Linked DNA regions of Homo sapiens: region 1 is linked to region 2. The links come from fine-mapping of genetic effects on gene expression. A gene starts in region 2. The other region holds a variant in brackets. All regions are shown on one strand. Distances are from middle to middle.

The links.
Region 1: its variant is fine-mapped to the expression of MEIS1 in whole blood (TOPMed, PIP above 0.99). The same link has a PIP of 0.9 or more in blood mononuclear cells.

The regions. Positions count from the first base shown.
Region 1 is chr2:66,491,521-66,501,911 of GRCh38, forward strand. All of the region lies in intron 7 of MEIS1 (Meis homeobox 1), which reads left to right. Among named protein-coding and RNA genes, the nearest start is that of MEIS1-AS2, 56 kb to the left of the region's middle. The variant T/C (reference allele first, on the strand shown) is at 6,410.
Region 2 is chr2:66,428,664-66,439,054 of GRCh38, forward strand. It overlaps MEIS1 (Meis homeobox 1), which reads left to right and starts at 6,462. Exons shown (of 13, transcript NM_002398.3): 1 at 6,462-7,205; 2 at 9,074-9,300. The coding sequence starts at 7,194. MEIS1-AS3 (MEIS1 antisense RNA 3) reads right to left here and starts at 4,807. Exons shown (of 4, transcript NR_046438.2): 1 at 4,628-4,807; 2 at 3,268-3,347; 3 at 3,157-3,175. RefSeq lists enhancers at 4,636-4,988, 5,858-6,734, 6,322-6,421, a silencer at 5,514-5,613 and a promoter at 6,220-6,760.

The DNA.
Region 1 (10,391 bases), 63 kb after region 2:
AAGTGCAGCAGTTTTCTCAGGCCTTGGATATAAACAACATTGTTTACGCTGTTTCCACTCTCTTCATCCTCTGTTTGTACAGGCCCTAAAACAAGTGGGTCTGTTTTGCATTTAAAAAAATTAGTGTATGTTTTCAGAATCAATCTATCAAGTGAGGCCAAGAAATGCCATAAGAACACATGGGTGGGGGTTAGCAAATTCTGGCTTTCAAAACTGACTTGACAGCCATTTAAAATGCTGGCTCTACATTCACAGAGTGTGTGGGGCTTCGTACACTCCCTTAATTCCACAATGGAGACAGTTGATTTGGGTCCCTCTTCCCTGCTTATTGCATGATATAAGGACAGCTGCACCCAGAAAATTATTAGCACCGTCCAAATGATTCTTTTCAAAGGGAACTTCTGTTGTGCTAAAATACACACAGCATTGTGAAAGTACAGTTTATTGTAGATATTTAATAAGGAATCTGTTATCAATCACTGGTAGTACAGGGAATTAAAATTTATGGAACAGTAGCTAATTAAAACAGGAAAAGTGTGAGCGTTCACTTGTGTGTGTGTGTGTGTGTGTCTGCTTGCATGTGTGGGTGTGAGCGAGGAATTCCTAGTGGAGGGGGGCTAGAGGGGGTTCCTCTATTACATGCATACTGGAGAGTCTTCATGAACACCCTTGCAGTCCTACAAGAACAGATGAGACAGACAGCTGACCAGGCAGCCATGAACCTTTCCGTCTGTGTGAACTGTCACCGTGCTTATAGACACAACTCCACATGTTCCGTAGAAGTTGGAAAATAGAATGTGCCTGCAGATTGTTTGGGCCTGTGAGTACAGGATTCAAACCTCCTTAGCAGATTGCTAGATTGAGACTCTGGGTGGATGCTGAGGTCTCAAGTCTCAGTTCAGCTTGGTTTGCTGCACTGAACTCAGCACACACATGGTCGATAACTCTTTCACTTGGCTGCCCTCTCTACCCTGCACTGGAGAAACTGCCTCCTGGGCAACTAAGCTAAGAAAGCTGTTGCTCTCATCTGGCTGGTTTCAGAAGGAGAAGGATGTCAGGAGTATGCAAAAGCTTGTTTCTTTGTGCAAGTCTTCAGCTGATTCTGAGTTGAGTATTCAGCTTGTTCTTTCTTGGAGACTCCTACAGCAGAGGCCCCTGAGAAGTCCTTGGTTGTTTGTGCAGATCTGGCTGTTCCATTCTGATGCACAGGTATTCCACATGGGTGCTAGGAAAAAGTGTGGTTACAAAGTGGCTCTGGGTCATTTGGAATAAATCAGTTGGACAACTCTTTTTTTGTTGTTTTATTCAGGACACTGGAAGTTTGTCTCATTGCTTTAATGAGAGTTGCATCTTCTTAGTTATGCTGTTGAACACATCTGGGGCCTGTTACTGCACCCTTACTCTTAGATAAATTGTAGCACCCATGCCCACACAGGTAGACCTCCTACCTTCATAAAGGGAAGTCAGAGGAAGCTGATACCCCACTCAGGTGGCCTTTAAATTTGAGGGGCGGACTTTGGGACCATGTTGCTTGGCAACAAATAACATATAGCAAAAACAAACACATAAAGATATGACCCATGATATTCAAACTTTAAATTCTATAACACTAGTTTGCTTAAGATATCAGCTGCTATACGGTAAAGTTTTTAAGGCAGCTGTAATTTGCGGAAATGCTGGCATTTACTTTTTCCATAGTCTTATCTTGAAGGCATAAATTGGAACTAAATCTGGGTTCAAGCCCCTTCTCATTTCTCTGGTACTCTTCCAGTAATATAGTTAACATTTGGATAAGGACGCATATTATGATTCTATCTATAGTTATTTACCCTCTCCCAGTTTAACATGAAGCCTTGCTAGCTTCCTAACTATAATATTTCCACCTTATTTTTTAGTTATGTGTTGGACCCTGAGTTGTCTTAAGGACTGAGGAATTTAAGACTCATTAATATTTTTATTAGTGTTATTTCCTTATAAATGAATTATCCCTTTCAGCTAACTATATCTTTAGAAAATGATCTTGGTTTTCTTCCATCATCATATCAATAATAATAAAATTAGCTAAGAAGTTGTAATTACTCTTCCTATATTCTCTGTGATGTGCTTAAATAGAATATCCACTTATTATGATGTTAATTTCCATTTATTACAAATGAGCAGGAACAAAATGTTCCTAACTGTCTGACTCCACCTTTTCCTGCACATTATGACTCCCCTATAAGTAAACCACACAGCCCACTATCGTATGTTCTCTAATGTACTTTCTAATAAATAAAGCCAGCTTAAAAAAAGATGTTATTCATTACATGTAAAATGATCATTTGAATTGCTTTTACTCTGAGTGACCCATGCATCACTTAATCAGACCCATTTAAACAGAGAGAGAAAGAGAATATGAGAACTGAGTGATCTGTCTGTATTTCATTTGGTGGCAATATGGGCAGAATTTAGTCTAAGAATGATTCTTTAGCCATCTAATTGTTTCCTGAAAAAAAAGTCTTATCTTCAGCATATATAGGTGGTGGTATGATGGGCTGTATAGAAATATAAGTTTAATCTGACTAGTGAAGATCATACTTCATCAGTTCACTTGTGACAAAAAAAGAGTGGCATGATCTCAAAGTTGTTCTCAGCCTTCTCACTCCTTTCAATCAGTTGAATCAACAAATCGATCACTTGTTCCATATGTAATAGCTCTCCCCGTGTAGAAATGAAGAGTTAGCAAACCTCTAGAATGCAAGACCAAATTCTTTGTTAAAGTTTTCTTATAATGAATTCTGTCTATTCCGCATATATGGAAAAACTCAGGGTAAGACACTTAACTTTTTTTCTGTAGAGAAACGAAAGCTGTAAAGGCAAAGGTATTTTTCTACTGCCTCCCCTTCCCACAAACCACTGTATTACTCTAAAGAAATTTATTATCTCAATCTGCTATTCATCTAACAAACTCCAACTGCCTGCTAGTACCAGGCCCTGAGGAAATACAATACTGAACAAGACTCATTTACTATGCTCAAAGAGCTTATAGTCTGGTAGGAATGCTGCATATAAACAGGCCGTGTAAAGGTGGTGTAATATCAGCTATAATTCGCACATGGAAAATGCACCTACCTCTGTATTGGAGGATCCCGGAGGAAGTTCTCCCATAGTCAGGGAATGTTTTACAGTACTTCATGTTTTCCCAAGAACTTTCACATATATGATCTCGCTTGTTCCTCATAACACCCCTTTGAATTAGCCAGTTCCTTATCACCATCACGTCTTTGTGGGTAGAAGAAGGAAGGCTCAGCAAATTGAGTCACTTCATGAAGAGTACCCAGACCGACCTGAGACTGAGGACCCAGGTTCTGACCTTAAGGTTAGTCATGAATGCATATGTTTGGGGAAGTAGGGGAACTTGGAAAGACGAGAAATAGTGGCCCGGTGTTGCGAAATTACTGTTTGACCATCTGGAAATTTGCCCCTGGTTCACAGCCAGGTTTCAGAAGACATGGAACAATCATTCCACATTCACATAGCCTAAGCACAGATTCAGAATGCCCACTTTCCCTCTTCTGACCTTTTTTTTTTTTTTTTTTTTTTTTTTTTAAACTAAGGAAAAGAAGCAAGTCTAGAAGACAGGCAATTAGCATGATCACTCAGGCCAGTTTTTATAATTTTGGTTTTCATCCAAACTAGTCACATTTCATACTTTTAAAGTTTTTAGGCTTTTCTGCTGGAGATCATCTTCCTCACACTGTGATTCTTAAAGGTTATGTATTTTTTTTACCCTGATCATACTTACGTCTTTTGACAAGAGAGAAGACGGACATCCAGCTTTGGGTCTGCAGTGATCCATCATTCAACTTCCGGTCTTTTTCATCATATTAGATTGTGCTAGTACTTGCTCTTTCCTTAAGCTATCTCCATTACAGGAGGGGGAACTTATTGCCCCAAATATAACAGAGATGCCTGACTTATGGAGAGTTACTTCAGAGATGTTTCTGGAAGAAAGAGTTCTTTGGGTATAAATGAGAAACAAGGGGACAGTTGTGTTTCCCACACCATATTTTGGTATCTAGCATGTAAATTATACTCTCATAGACCACCTGGATCTGAATGGCTGCGATCTGGGGCCCTTTCCCAGTTTTGCATGGCAGATGAGGAAAATGCAGGAAACGCTGAGGCTTTGAAGATGTGCTAGAACCTCAGCAACACAGAGCCACTGAGCAGCAAGAGGAGGCTGAGACAGGGCAGAAACACCCCCACTGTTAAGAGTGATGAGGGTTTGGAGCACCTAATCTGGATCTAGAAATTGGCCGCTGTGCAGGCAGCTGGGTGGTTCAAGATCTAGCACCCAAAGAGTGTAGCAAGTTCAGGCCTGGGCATTTCGGCATAACCAGTCTGGTAGGTGGGGCCAGCAAGAAGGAATTCTAGGCCACAGGCCAATTCAGAAGTCAGGCAGGCCTACGATTGGTATTCGGAGATCTGTTTGGGAAGAGATGATCATCCCTCCAGCTGGCAGCACAGGAGAGCAGTATTCAGTTCTGGGGAAAGAAAGGGCTGGGCCAGGGGAGGGGAAGAGAGATTCCCAGCCAGCTGATGTTGGAGAGAAGACTAGATCCAGAAGAGGACCAAGAGCAGAGAAGGAAGTAATTCCTTGGTTTCTGTGACTTCTTTCTCACCCAAGATAGATTTCAGGTTAGCACACTGTGACGTCATCACTGAAAACCTCTCCCCTCCCCTCGGGCGTGGGGGGCAGTGTGTGACTGTTCTTTACTCCAGGCTGGTGATTCAGGAGGCAGCCTTGTTTGTGTTTCCGTATGCCTCCTGCAGGGGAGACTTGCTTTTCTTTGATACATAAATGGTGAGTGAAAAGTAACTCTCCTGTGAGCTTGGTCTCTTTTTTGCTCTTCTCTGGTCGAGCAGCCTGACCAGGCCTGGTCAGTGTGAATTGCCCAATTTCATAGTGTGCACGGGGGTCTCAGGAGAGGGCAATTGCCTCATAACTTTTCTATTAGCAGAATTTCAGATTCCTGACGTGGAGCGATACTTGAAAACCATTTGCGTGATGCTGGGAAATGTTTGCTTTGTCCTTCTTTATGTCCTAGGCATGGGCATTTTTGTCATTTCACTGGGGACTACTTGTAGGCTCTGAAAGCAGGAAGGGGCTTCTCTCAGGCCATGCCCTAGCTAAGCGAGGATTCCCCTCTGTATTTGGATAGCTGGTTGCTCAAGTTCCAACCCTTACATGAGGTTTTTCTGTATGATTTTCTCCTTTATGTTTTGGAGGCACACTCGGGAACGTTCTCGTTTTTTTTTGTTTGTTTTGCAATGTGGCTATTTTTGACTTTACAAAGCATTGGAACTGGCATCCTCCCATTCTTGTGAACTTTCTCTGGATCTGTAAATACTTGGTATTTGTTTTCTTCCTTGTACATTTCAGGGGTGGTTTTTATATTTAACTTTGACTAAGATACACTCACATGCTACTCTGAGAGTACATGCTTCGGTGTCTCTTTTTTCTTTGCCTTCAGTAAAAAGGATAAGATTCAGGGAAGGTTTATGAACTCACTTTATGGGTCAGACATGTGCTGGCTGTGGAGAGCATACAGCAATAAGAAAGGACTGTCTCTACCCTCAGATACCTTTCTAGAGGTTAAAGAAATGCACCTTGATCATTATCATTGTCTCTAATGGAGTAAATGGAAAGGGTAGTGGTAGAATGGTTAGGAGTTTAGCCTCAAGTCAGATCTGGGTTGAATCCACAAGGATTTGTATTCCTTATCTGTATAGCAGCCTATTTCCTTATCTGTGCATTAGGGACATTCAAAGGATTAAATGAGATACTTCAGAAAAGCAAGGATTGTGAGAATTAATTGATCAAAGATCAATGCCAATCTCAGTTTCTGGTATCTAGTAAGTGCTCAATAAATGTTAGTTTTTAGTACTGTTTCTATTATTCTTATTGTCTAGAGAAGAGATGGAAAGTTAGTCCTGTTTTTCGGTAGTGTGTCTCACTTTTCCTGGATCTGAAAGATACTTTCTTAAATGATATAACTTTTTTCCTTATCAGTAAAACAAAAATCTTTGCTGTTAAAAACTGCTGCAGAGGCTTGGCATGGTGGCTCATGCCTGTAATTCCAGCACTTTAGGAGGCTGAGACAGGAGATTTGCTTAAGCTTAGGACTTCGAGAGCAGCCCAGGCAACATGTGAGACTCCATCTCTAAAATAAGATGAATAACATAAAAAATTAAAACTGCTGCAGAAATATTATTTAGAAGGCAGAGGGTGAGTTATCATAAATTAACCTATTTTGTGTGGGAAATGAAAACTTGTACTAGTAAAAATTGCTTTCCAATGTATCCTCATCCACCAATTGGCTGCCAGCTTAATGTGATGGGACTATTTAGGCAGCACTGCCACCCA[T/C]TGTTACTCTGAAGCACACTTGCAAAGTTCCAAGTCACTTTACAAGGCTTTTTTTGGGGGGCTGTGGGGGAAGAAAAAGAAAACAATAGAAAAAAAATGGTATGCCATGTTAGGAGAGTGGGTATAGATATTTTGGAAAAGACTTCTAGGAATGGGAATGGGATGGGGAGAGGTGACAAGAGTAGCAATGGTCATTTTGGAGCTTTGAGTGGGGGATTCAGATTAATGTTCCCCTGTTCAAATGGTGTACTCACTAGCAAAACAAACATAAGAACTCACATTCGCTGAGCTAAGCCACTGCTGCCAAACGATGCGCGAAACATTTTTATATAGCTGATTTTATTTCATCTGCCCCACAACTCTAAGGTGTAAGTACTATTACTAGGTTCATTGTTTCCAGAGGGGTGAAACGGGGCTTTGGAGAGGTTAAATAACTTGCCCAGGGTCACACAGCTATTAAGTGGTAAAGCTGGGATTTACATGAGCCCAGACAAAGAACCCAAGAAGCTAAGCTATTCTCTTGTAATACCTCCAACATAGGAGGCAAGAAGTGAGGTATTATACAGGTTGAGGAGATAAAGGGGAGAGAGGCCTGCAGTGCTAACAGGAGGAGCTGGGATTCATCCTGGCTTGTTCTGATAGGTCAGTTAGTCTTAGAGATACCCATGAGGTCACCTACTCAAAATGGGGCTCAGAGTAGCCTTGTCCCATTCTTGTCCAGTGGGCGCAGCTACAGTCTTCCTGGCCTGGAGTGACTGGAGGCTGTCCCCACGTCCCACTTCAGTGAGGCATTCATGTGCACCCAGCACACTTTCTAGCTTTATTTGCCTGGAGGGGAAGATTCTCCAGAACCTTGTTAAGATGCACAGTGTGGTCCTTGGACTGGCAGTGTGGCCTCGGCAGTCCCTGGGAGCTTGTTAGGAATGCAGAATCTCAAGCTCCTCCCTACTGAATCTAAAGCTGCATTTTAACAAGATCCCAGCTGTTTCGTATGCACATGAAAGTTTGAGCAGCACTGCTCTAGAAAGTTACTTTTATCTTTACTGTGCCCACCAAAGTAATCAAACTTTGTGAAGTACGATTATTTTCAAACAAGCCTACGTCCCTGACTAACCGAGTGGAAGGTGTGAGTGGCACTACAAATTCACAAAAGAACTGTAGCCTCAGATAATCAAAGGAGAGAAGGTCAGATGCAATCACTGATGCATGCTAGTAATTCTCAAACCTTCGTTTTCAGAAACGATTGGATTTTCAGATAGATTTGCAGTAAGAGAATAACAAGTCTTTATTTTTTTCATCCCAACTTCTTTCTTGCACATTTTTCTTCTAGCTATATTTAATATCTGTTCTCCCCACACACTTGCTAATCTACATTTCACAATCTTCTTCCACTTCACTTTGTCTGCAAAGAAATCTACCTGGACAGAATAGCATCTCTTTTTTTCCCCCTGACCCTTGGCATTTCCTCTCCCTCCAACTTCTGCCTGATCCTAGGATGGACTCTCTCATCCCTCATTCTCTATCATTAGCTCTCAGGCTGCCCTTCCTGCACTTTACCTTCCCCCACACCTTCTTACAGGAAAGCAGAATAGAAAGGCATCAGTGAGGGATGAACAGGAGAGTGCCTTGAGAGAAGATTCCCAGGAAGACAGGGAGAGCCAGACAGTGGACTGGTTGCAACCCATGTAGCCGAATCATAGTGCTCATTGCTGTGGAGGCTCTGGTCTGTCTAGCCACACAGACCAGTGAAGTGAGGGTACATAGGTTAAAAAAAAAAAAAAAAAGCTTCTACAGAATACAGACATGTTATCCTGGTGTGTCAATCAGGAAAGATGTGGTCCGGATGAACAGAATTGTACCTTTTTAAATATTATAACTTTTAGGGACATTCTTGATGAAAATGTTTCCACTCTATACATAACTCTCTCATATCTGATTATAACACTTAAAAAATAATTTAAAGTCAGTGGACATATGAGTTTATGCACTGTGCTATATATTTCCTTATTTACACAGCCTGTTAAGCATTTATATGGCTTTTTTTCCTATGCTAAAAGGGCCTTGTGTGCAATGCCTTTTAGGTTCTTGTCTTTTGCCTCTTTATCATCTTATACTTTTACAAAGCTCTCAGCCTACAAACTATGAGGCCAGAAGCTAGATGAGCAAACTTGAGAACTGCATCTAAATTAAATGTAACTGTTCTTCAATTGAGGGTCTTATGATCATTTCTCTGTAGAAAGTATACGAGCTTTACCACATATAATCTATGATTGTAATCTATTGGTTCTTAAGCTTGGCTGTATGTTATAATCAACTTGGAGCTTTAACAGTCACTAATGCTGAAATCTTACCCCACCTCCCAAACTGATTTAATTGGTCTTGAGTGCAGTGTAGGCATCAGGATTTGTAAAAGCTACCACATGATTTAAATGTAGCCCATGTTGAAAAGCACTCCTTCTAATCTGGATGTCAGAAAGCTTTTTAAATTTTTATTTATTTATTTATTTTTTATTGAGATGGAGTCTCGCTCTGTTACCCAGGCTGGAGTGCAGTGGCTCGATCTCCACTTGCTGCAAGCTCCGCCTCTCAGGTTCAAGGGATTCTCCTGCCTCAGCCTCCCGAGTAGCTGGGATTACAGGCATGCATCACCACGTCCAGCTAAGTTTTGTATTTTTAGTAGAGGCAGAGTTTCACCATCTTGGCCAGGCTGGTCTAGAACTCCTGACCTCAAGTGATCTGCTCGCCTCAGCCTCCAAAAGTGCTGGGATTACAGGCATGAGCCACCGTGCCCGGCCAGCTTTTTTATTTTTCAAATCCTGCTTTTCAAGTGTATTTTATTTAATTGAGTTTGTTGAAAAAGTGACCTCAGATAAATAAATGCTATCTTGTTGTGTAAAAGTGTTTGTATATACACACATATATACATGCATAGCAAATACATATGCAGAGTAATATAGAAGTTTAAAACTAAATTACATAGCAAGCTTTTGCAGATATCACAAAAATAAATGTTGTCTTTGTGTGTTTGTGTGTGTATTTGTGTTTGTGTGAGCATATGTGTGTGTATGTGTGTCTGCCTGTCTGTGAGATCCTATATGGGGTACTTTTTTTCCTAAAATGATCTATTTTTGTGGTTATGTAGGAGTTTATGACCATTCATTAATAGAGCATTTATATGTATTTTGGGGAGCATATTATGAGTAATGAACTAGCATTATTAAAATAATTTTAAAAAATAGGCAAGGTACTAGTTCTGAAAATTCTTTCTAAGCTGTTGATTCAAAATAAAAGTTTATGACTTTTGTACTGTTTTACCTTTGCACTTGAAAGTGCAAATATAAAAATAAAGAAAATACTCTTTATTTCCTGAGAAAAAGATTGGGGGATTTCCATTTTATTTTACCAATAATGTAAATGTATAGATTTCAGTATATTTTGCAGTGTACTCACATCCTGAAGTTTCTAAGACTCCATTAAAAAGTTATGCTGTTTTTGCAGGGATTTTTTCAGGGCATTTAGTTGTAAAAAAAAAATGCTGAATAGATGAAAAATGAGTAAAATCTGTGTTTTTTTTTTCTTTCCTATTCATCATTGCTGTTTGTCCTCTGTGTGTAGGCAACCAATTTGCTGTTGTTCCCCTGAGGGGAATTCAAGTCAAAAAGTAATATTGAATTACTAGGAAAAGGTATTCCTATCTCAAAAGAACAAAGTAAAATGATTCAGAAAAAAAAAAAAACTTGGAAAATTTATCCAATTTCCTGGTGTATGTTGTATGTGTCCATGGTACTTTACTTCTATGAACACTTACATAAAATAAATCTTAAGTAAACTATAAATCTGAACACTGACAAACTCCAACGGACAATTCTTAATTTTTATGAATGTAGAAAGTCTGCTATCTTCCTTTAATCCCATCCAATGCACATTCACATTTTGTCAATTTTTTTTTTTCATTCTATGAAAACCTAGTAAATATTTTCAT
Region 2 (10,391 bases):
ATTACCAGTGTCATTTCCCCTCTCCTAAAGGGTTTTTTTTCTTGATTACCAATGTCACTTTCCAAATTCCAAGAACTGATTTGTACATGCTAGATTATCGAGGCAGTAGATAGATTTAACTTGACTGTCAAGCAAATTCATCCTCAGTGTCAAGCAACCACTACTGTTTTTTGTTTTTTGTTTTTGTTTTTGTTTTCAGAGTTGTTGAATCTGTCCTATCTTCCTTTCTTTTCCCAGGCTGTCTTCCCAAGTTTAGGCATATGGGTACACACACATGCACAGCTGTATTCAATGTAGGTTTTAGCCTTGTGCCTTAATCAAGTGTTTGAGCTATACACCTATGATTGATATCATATCCTATCTTTGGATTTGAAAAACATGGTTAGACCCCAAGACCTGTCCTATGAGTCTAAGTTGGGTACTGTGGTTTTCTCTTGTTAGTTACCAGCACCAAATCATACCCCCAACCACCACCTCCCACCCCCGTAAAACAAGATTAAAGTTTGTCATCAAGGCTGCAGTTTTTCTATTGTCCAGTAGACGGCACAAAAGATCAAGCCTTCAAATGCTAAACAATTCACCAAGGCTGCTGTGGTTTGAAGTGTATGTGTGTGATCTTCTTTAAAATAGCTAACCAGCCAGCATTGTATCTGTGAAGCAGTGAAGTACCTGAAAACTTAAGATAACTCACTAAAAGTTTTGAAACGTAATGATATAAAAAGGTTTTGCATATGTCAACAAAATGTTGCTTCAGAAAATACACTTTTAAATAACTTCAGAGAAAAATGTTATTTAGAAATTTATCATTTAAAAGTTATCTTTATAGAAATTAAAGTGAGAGAAATTACAGGGCATTTTATTTTTAATTAAAAATAAAGAAAGTATTTGCACCGTGAGACTTGAAGATTCTATAGCGGAACTTTGCATGATGCATCTATGTTTTTTACTACATTTAACATACAACTCAGTCCACAAAATTGAAGGTTGTATTTCAAATGCACTTACACATAAATGCATATATAATAGGTACTTGGGAAGGGGAATAAATTCTCTTGATGAAGTTTTGTGGGATAGCTTTTGGGGGATATTGGAGAATGAGGCCAGTAGAAACAACAGTTGGGACTTTGCCTCTTTCAGAGCAATGCATGACTTTGGCTAATATTTATATTTTACTAAAAGGCTTCTATTTCCTTTTCATTCTGCAGACACTCCTTATGTAGCAGTTTGGGGGGGAGGGTAAAGTGTGGGCTAATAACTCATTTCCCAGTTAATTTTATTAAGAATTTATAGCACTGTTTAGAAAGTTTTAAGACAACCATAAATTTTATTAGGAATACTTTATTAAGCCCTCCATTTAATTAATAAAAGACCTCTATAACTTCTGAAAATGTCAGAGCTAGTAATTATGTTAACCAGTGTAGTTTTTTCCCCCCTAGAGACCAAAGCATTTTAATGATTTGAAATAGAATAGTAAGGAAAGCACCTCCCTCTCACCCCCCATTTTTTTTCCCTAATTTTTGCATCATCCAGTCAGAATATAGTAACTTAGGTATTTTCCCTGCAACCCTTGGAGAGCCTAAGCTGACCTCTAATTGACTTCTGAACTGGACCCAGACATTCTTTGTTTTCTGAAGCAAAATGCAGTAAACAAATCTTTCAGTCCTTATAGCCTGTAATGCTTTAGAGCACTTGATTAACATCCTCCCTAATCCTCTCAGTTAACCCCCTTTGATATCACCTAACCAGGTTTCCCCCTTTAATAGATCTCTCAATAGTTTATTTCACTTTTCTCACAGCCATTCATTAGCTTTGACTTCTTGGTGCCTTTCTCATATCACCTCCAGGCTCTTATCTCCAGCATTCCTCTATTATCTGTACTAGATTTCGAATCTATTTTCTTTAAACTATCTTTCCCTCCCTCCTCTTATTTCTGTTTTTTTGAAATGTCAATGCTAGTGAGGGGGAGAGATGCAGAGGATGAATGTTTTTGAAATACAAACGCCAAGCCTCCACACCACAGGACAACCTAAAAACCAATCACAGCATTTTAAGGGACATCTTAAAGTTTGGTGGCAAATGATAAACCCTTATCATTTTGTGAACACAGCTGCCAAACTCGATTGATTAACAGGCTTTTGTTTATTCTGGGCTGGCAAATACACACACGTTTTACCTTAAGAGGTGCCTCTTTAGTTTCTAAGGGTTTTGGAGCTGACTCATCAGTGTGACCTTTTGGGACAAAAGCCTAATTTAGGATATAGATCTTTCCAGAAGCACAATTCCTTATAGAACATAAAGTCAGGGGAGTTCTCCGAGACGACTTTACCAGCAGCTCAGAGGAGCACTGAGGGCTTGAAATGCCTCCATACAGGAGGGTGTAAACAATAGAGACCAAGGGCCCAGTCTGCCTCCTTTTGTCACCGTTCTCTATCTCTGGAAAGATGCTCTGAGATAAGAAGGATGAGAAGAGAACGGAAGGCCTGAATCGCAAGAGCTAGGGCCAAGTGCCAGAAGTTTTCACCAGGCCAAGTTTTTGCAAAATAAAAGTGCTATTGCCTTAAAAAAGCAAGTATCTGAAATAAGTTAGGAATAGGGGCTGTCAAAAAATGGGCATAAATATTGACAGTAGTTTACTAAGATACCTAGACCTGTCCCTTCATTTGTTTCCTTTTAATAGATGATTAATTGCTGCCCTGCTAAAGGAGTTTTTTTTTTTTTTATGGCTACTATATTGCAACTCTAGACATCCTCTGTGCAATTTCTCTCAGCAAGCCCCAACTGTAATAACTGTTTGCTAATTGTAAAATCCTTATCCAGAATGAGGTTTGGGCAAACAATTTGTACTACTGTAATTACATTGTAAAAGTGTTTAGTCCCTTGATTGTTCAGAATTAATTGTATAAAGGCCTAGAAGTTATATTAGGTTCACAGTTTAAAATGGAAAGACTGTGGGGGGGGGGAGGGGCACTTTTCAAAACTACTGAGTTGATTTTAAGTCCGCAAACTCAAACTATCTCATTCTTTAAGGAAAATTTGTGTGTAGGTAATTTAAAGTACATTTTTAAGGTAATCTGGCACATCATGGTTAAAGCATGCAGTCGTCTAGTCTTCCTCCTGCTTTGAAGATTTTGGTTATGTTTGCAAAGGGTGACTTACCTGAACCTTCTTTTCTCATCTGTGCTAGAAAACAAAAGAAAAAGATTACCGGAAAGCAACAATACAAAATAAATCCTGTTGTCAAATATATATATATATATATATACTGACCTTTTCCAAATTTGAAAACGTGGCCGCAGAGTTGTGGTAAATCCAAGCCCCGTTACCTCTTTGCCGAAGAACCCCTGAGGCTGTTAAAGACCACAGTCCTCTAAGCGTATTTCGCAATAAATTTCTCTCAGTTAAATTATACTTACACAATTTCCCTCGCAGTTCATTTAAGGATCATAAACGTAGGTGTGCCCTGTCGGTGTTTGGTTTGACCCCCACCTCCCACCCACGCATCTCCCTCCTACCCCCGAGTCGCGCAGATGCCTGGCGGGCCTGATGCGGGGACGATGATCACACCCCCGCGAGCAGCCATCGGAAGGCGCTCAGGTATACCCCGAAGTCGGCTGGGGTTCCGGGAAGGGGTCGCAGACTGCCGGCCCAGCTTAGTCCTTTCCCTAATCGGAAAAGGAGCGTGCTGCCTGGCCCAGCCAGCGCAGCCTCCCAAGGATTAAACAGAAATCGCCTTCCTGAGACGGGGAGGTTCCATCTTGGCCTGAAATTCTGCTTCCAAGTTCATGTTGTGGGGCCGGGGAGCGACGGTGAGGCGTGGGGTGGGGGGGTGGGGGGATGGGGGGAGGCCGGGAAGTGTAGGCAGAGGCATAAAGGCGCTGGTAATGCACCTGGCTGCCCACCCACTCCGTCCCCAGCTTTTACTCGCGGGCCTGTCTTAACCTCCCAAGTGATGTTTCAGGGCGTTTGTACCAGAAAACCTACACATGTATGTGATGGAAAAAAACTAAAAGATCCTGAAACTTAAGCGTCAGAAAAAAGACAGGGAGAAACAGAGAGAAAAAGGAGAGAGGAAGCAAATGATAAGGGATCCTGGAGATGGTTTAAACACACACACACACACACACACACACACACACACACACACACACACACACACACGAGGGAGAGCTCTTTCAAGGCAAAGCGCTTCTGAAGGTTTTGGGAGAACGTGTGTCAGCCCTTCAGGCACACAGGGTGCCAGTACGGAGTTGGGGGCGGGGAAGGGTGCAGTGCAGGCGGCTGGGAAGGCTCATCTGCTCGGCTTTATGGAAACGCTCCACTGTTGGGGGCAACCAACCCCGCGTTGACTCCTGCGAAGTGCTAAAGGAAGCGATAGATGTCGCCTAAGGAGACTACGGACGCTCGGTGGAACCTCATTCCAGACCTATGTTCTCATGCTCGCCCTGTGTCTCCTGCTCCTCGGAAGCCCACTCTATAGAATCTTCAGTCCTACCTCGCAGACGGACGCAAATTATCTTTTACTTTGCGCTTAAGAGTTGGCTTCAATACATTTTAGAGCTCCTAACCTTTCCCAAACAATCTTCGGATGAAGGGATACCCCCAATCTTGCTCAAAACTCTTTCCCTACCTACACCCCCTTGAGGGTGAGGGTTCAGTCCGCAGCTGGCGAGTGGGACGTGGGTGGGGGCGATGGAGGCGCGGGCGGGCTGCTTGGAGGGAGTCAGCCTTTTGGCCACCTTCAGGGCGGGAATAGGGACTGGCAGTTCGCATTCCCCGCAGATCGAAGCTCCCTGCTGATCGATTATTTGATAATTGATTTTCCCCGCAGCCAATGCGCGGCGGCCTGGGCGGGGGCGCCTCCTGATTGGCCGAGCACTCCTCCACGGCTGCCTACCGAGATTTGGGTGAGCTCATTTTCCAGTCGACCGCAGGGGGAGTTTTCTGCGAGGTTTCAGCTGGAGGGAGGGGGAAAAATCCTCTCGGAGCCGAGCGAGCTGCGAGCCCTGCTTGTGGATGTGAGGTTTCCAGCCACTGGTAGAGCTGCTGCGGCTGAGCCATCTCGGCAGATCAGAGCCCAGCGGACAGAAATATAAATACGAAAATAACGCCACTAAATATAATCACAAGGGAGAAGCTTAGAGCGGGAGAATAAAGAGAAGGGGTGAGGGGGAATTAAAGCCCAGGCAATAGGTGTTAAAGTTAAAAACAAAACAAAACAAAAAACAGTGGTTGGTTGGAGCCTCCGAGTTGTAGGTACAGGCAGCTTTTGTCTGAAATCTCAGCTTCCGAAGCGGATTTCTTTTTCTCTGGCACTGGGAGGTTTCGCCGAGCCGGGTTGGGGACGGGAAAGAGGAGCGCGGGGAAGGATGTCTGGGGTGGTGAGGGCAGGGCTTCGCTGGAGAAAGAGCTAGTGGGGCGCGAGGTTCTTACAGGCCCGGGAGAGGTCGAGGCTGGAGCCCCTCGGCGCCTCTAAGACAAAGGCAGCGGTGGCTGCAGCCGGAGCCTAGCACTCCGGCAGCGTCGCGCCGCGCCGCGCCGCGCCCTGGGCGCACGGCCGCCTCACCCCGAGCGGGTCGGAGAAAGAGCCTCCCTCCCAGCGGCTCCCCGGCCCCGGCTCCGCCCGCGAGGTCTGGGCTGCTGCGAGCCCGCGCCGGGTTTCGCTTTCCGACGATCATAAATAGCTTGGTGTTTGTAAACAGGCGCTGGGGGCACATTCCCCGCGCTCAGCTCATTGTTCCCTCCCTTCCTCTCTACTTCGCGCAGGACGCCTGGGCTGGGGCTGGGAGCCGCCGGGGCTAGGAGGTGGGGGAGTCCAGACCCGAAGTGACAAAATGCTAGCATTTTCTTTCCCCCGGCCGGGCGTCCACCTCTAACAGCAAAGAAACCTCTAAGCTGGGTCTGCAGAAAGCCCGAGCCACCTCAACCCCATGTTCTCAGGACTCCTTAGCAGAGGCTTTCCCAACCTGGCTTCTCCCTCCTTTTCCTCCACGATCCCGCTTTGACTTTTCTCCTTGCAGTGTTTAGTTCTGAGAATTCAGTACTTTGCGCATCACCCCCTGCCCCGAAAAACACTGGCAGACCCCAATAATTTCGAGGAAAGTCATGAAGTCTATGCGCGGAGCCCTGTGCAAAATAACTCCCGCTGCTGCCTGCCCGGCGTTGATTCCCAATTTATTTCAAGAGAGTCGGCTTTGGGGAGAGAGTCTGCAGGGGGAGGGAGAGAAAAGAATACTGAAAATAAAGCTGGCGGCCGCGGGCTACTGCCTGCGTTTGTGTGCGTGTGCCCTGGGTGTGTGGTGTTTGTGCCTGGGCGTGCGATTTAATGGAGCGCCTCTCTGCCTCTCCAGTGCGGCCAGAGCTCGCTTCGCGCACCCACCCCTGCCGAGGAGCCTACTTGCTGCAGCCCAATGCATTGTGTAAGACGCGACCTGTTATGGCCACCACTACTTCCGGGTTCTAGCATTCTGGTCGGAATCCACCTCTCCGCCTGTGCAACACACACTTTACACACGCACGGGGACTGCAAGCGGGCAGCATCGATCGTGGCTCCTTTAAGACAAACTCAGACAGACATTTTTTTTAACCCTCCTTCTCTAATCTCCTTCCAGTGCAGCACTTGCAAAGAGGGAGAGAGAGGGAGAGAAAGAAAGAGAGAGAGAGAAGAGAGAAACTGATTAGGAATTAGGACTGATTCAAGGGAAGCGAGCGCTAGGGCTTTGTGCATTTGAATATTAACATTTGAGGTGTTCTGACCAGAAGAAGACAGAGCGGATGATCATTCATTCACCACGTTGACAACCTCGCCTGTGATTGACAGCTGGAGTGGCAGAAAGCCATGAGATTTGGTAGTTGGGTCTGAGGGGCGCTCTTTTTTTTCCTTTTCTTTCTTTCTTTCTTTTTTTTTTTTTAAACTGATTTTTGGGGGAGAGAAGATCTGCTTTTTTTTGCCCCCGCTGCTGTCTTGGAAACGGAGCGCTTTTATGCTCAGTGACTCGGGCGCTTTGCTTCAGGTCCCGTAGACCGAAGATCTGGGACCAGTAGCTCACGTTGCTGGAGACGTTAAGGGATTTTTCGTCGTGCTTTTTTTTTTTTTTTTTTTTTTTTCCGGGGGAGTTTGAATATTTGTTTCTTTTCACACTGGCCTTAAAGAGGATATATTAGAAGTTGAAGTAGGAAGGGAGCCAGAGAGGCCGATGGCGCAAAGGGTACGTATTAAAAAACAATTGTGGAACTCAAATGTGAGATTAAATTGAAACGTGGCCGAAAGACACTGCTAAAAAGTTTCCTTTTTTTCTCTCTCTCTTTTAAAAAATGAGGCTCCTAAAGCCGTGGCCTAAGCGAGAGGATTTATTCAATGCATTTGTAGACTTATGTATGTTACTTGGAGTTGTTAATTAAAGGAATCTATTTATCTATAGATTCCTAACCAGCAGCTATATAAATAAAAATGCAAGCTCAAACAATCATCTGGGTTTTTTTTTAAAAAAGCTAGATACCTAAAGCTGTAATTTGAACATTCAGAGATCAGAAGTTTAAAGTTATGTTTAAACTAAAATATGCAGCTGGAAACTTCTGATATGTTATTGATTATGCTCATCTTTAATATCACTAGAAGTATTCAGCTTTTTAAAGGAAATAACTTTGTCATAGTATAGCCAATTTTTTGGTCAGAAAACATTCATCTTTTTATAGTAATTTCAATTTGTATAGACTTGTATACAAGGCAATATTTTGCAAGTTTCTCTTAGATAAGCCCTCTACTAATTGAATACTAAGCACACAGTTACTCACTTTAAAAATGCAATACTAATTTCCCCATATTCCTTTTTCAATGGAAATGCAGTGAGAGTAAAGTGAGACAATGACAACCCAACTGAGGTAGTTTCTTAAAAGAAAGGGGGTCTACAAAAAGCCTTCCTTGCATAATTTGTGTCCTGGCCCTCAAAGCCCTGTTTGCAAAAGAAAGTTACTAGGCTGACACAGTTTTCTTTACTCCTTTGGTTCAGGCAAATGTCAGCGTTCTTCCAAACTCTTTTCACACCTCTGGCTTTAAGGAGATGAAAGTGGCAATTCCTCCTTTCTTTGAAAATCATTTCACTCTCAGCGCCTCCAAATCTTGGGAAAATAACTGCCTGGAATGAACCAATTAGAAAAACCTAAATAGCTAAATTTCACACACACAAAATAATGACAATCAATATGAAAGTAGTTTTTTTTTTTTTTTTCTGGAAGAGGAAGATGGAAAGTTGTGCATTTGCTTTTGAATTTGCTTTAAACCTGGTGAGTAACATTTGCCTCCTTGACTTCTAGTCTGGAAACAAAGTTCATAAGAGTAAATAAGAAAATAGAATATTAGCTGCTTCAACTATAGATTTTCTTTAACTTTGGGGGTGGGGAATTGCCCAATTCTAAATTCAGCTCTGATGTTCAGGAAAAGCTACCCTCCTTTGAGTTTCACTTATAAGGGGTCAGTTAGTTTTGTATAATTTAGCAGAGTTTGTCTTGGAAAGCAAAAGAAATGCAGTGTCTTGTAGGACTGCCTAACCTCACGCTGGCAGGGAAATAAAATGAGAAGCCTGTCTAAATTCACGTGCTTTGCGTAGCTGTTCCCATCGTAACTTTTTTTTTTTTTTTTAATTCCCCCTGATGTGAAGGGGCTGTGAAACTAGGCGGGTTTGCTGCAGTGTCCTGGCACGTTTTATTATTGTGATTTTGAATTTCTTCCTCCAGAGACATGCCCGTTTCACCTTCTACCCTCGGGAGAATGCTTCTCTTTCTCTCTTTCTTTCTTCTTTCCTTCTTGCCAAAGGAGCCTGAATTTCTAAACTAGTTGATAGGGACACAAGTTAGGGCAAGATCATTCATCCCAGACGAGTCTCGCTGAGAATTCTGTATTTTTTACTTAAAGCTTTAATTTTAAAATAAGAAAAACTCAGCTTTATAGATGCAAGGCCACCGAATTCCGGGTGGAAGGACCCAGCTGTATTGACCTTATATAAGCTCGGTGCCTTGCCGTTCTCCCATTTGCCCGCCTGGCCTCCTGAACCTTCTTTCTCTCCTGTTTGTCATGCAGTACGACGATCTACCCCATTACGGGGGCATGGATGGAGTAGGCATCCCCTCCACGATGTATGGGGACCCGCATGCAGCCAGGTCCATGCAGCCGGTCCACCACCTGAACCACGGGCCTCCTCTGCACTCGCATCAGTACCCGCACACAGCTCATACCAACGCCATGGCCCCCAGCATGGGCTCCTCTGTCAATGACGCTTTAAAGAGAGATAAAGATGCCATTTATGGGTAGGTACAATGGGCAGCAGGTTAAGTAGTTGAGACTCAACGCTTCCCTCTTTCTCTGTGCCCTTGGTAAGAGGAAAGTCAGAGTTCTCTGGATTGGAGGTACATCTTTGGTGACTTTTCATTCACATTTCATGGATAATTTGGGGAGGTGGCCTGCCATCCCTGAAGCCCTACATCCCCATACACACTCTGTGCACATCCAGTGCCCTGCTCCACCATGGCAGTGCCCGCAAGGGGGTCCCAGATGAGAAGAAGCTGGCTAAAGGGCCCTTGTCCCCTCTCAGACTCCTTCAGCGGGCTGGAGTCCTCCCTCGCTCGATTTCGCCCGAGAGCGTTAGGGGTTTCTAAATGCAGGCGCCTTTGTGTTGTAACGAAACTTTTAGTTTAAGGGAAAATCTCTTTTAAGCCACTGATTGTTCTGACTTGCTGAGTTTACTCAGCAGCCTTATGCTGGCTCTGCCACTGCACAATAAAACCAAAGCAGGACAGTTGCAGGTCAAGCAAGGGGGAACATGTTTTGCATTTAGGGAGTTTGACCACTGAAGTCAAGGAGAGGAGCTTGCTCTGAATTGTTACACACATTAAGAAACTTCTAGATGTTTTAGCACTTTGTGCTCAAAGGCGAAACCTGCAGGATTTAGAAATAAGTAAATTCGGGGTGCTCTTCCTCGGAGGTTGTTTTCTGGCTGCGGTTTATACTGCTTTCTCCTCCGCCATTCGATTAGACCCTGGGCTAGTAGAATCCTTTGAAACTCACTTGTGCCTACTGTGTGCCGATGAATTTGGGAACCTCTTTTTACTTTGCAGAAACTTTTATTTCTATTTATTTATTTTTAAAAAATCAGGACACACTGACCCTCCCTCGCTGGAAAAAAAAATATATATAATCTTTTTATTTTATTTTCTGATCCCTTGTGCGATGGGCTTGTTTAATTCCCACCGTTCTGTCCGCAGAGTTAACTACAAGTGGTTTAGGCTCTGGGACAGAACATTTGGGGAAGCTTTGTAAAGGACCCCAAACTGTTAAATTCCCAGCTGAGCTGTGAGAGCTAATAAAAGACTTGAGATACCTCCTTGGGCATTAGAAGAAG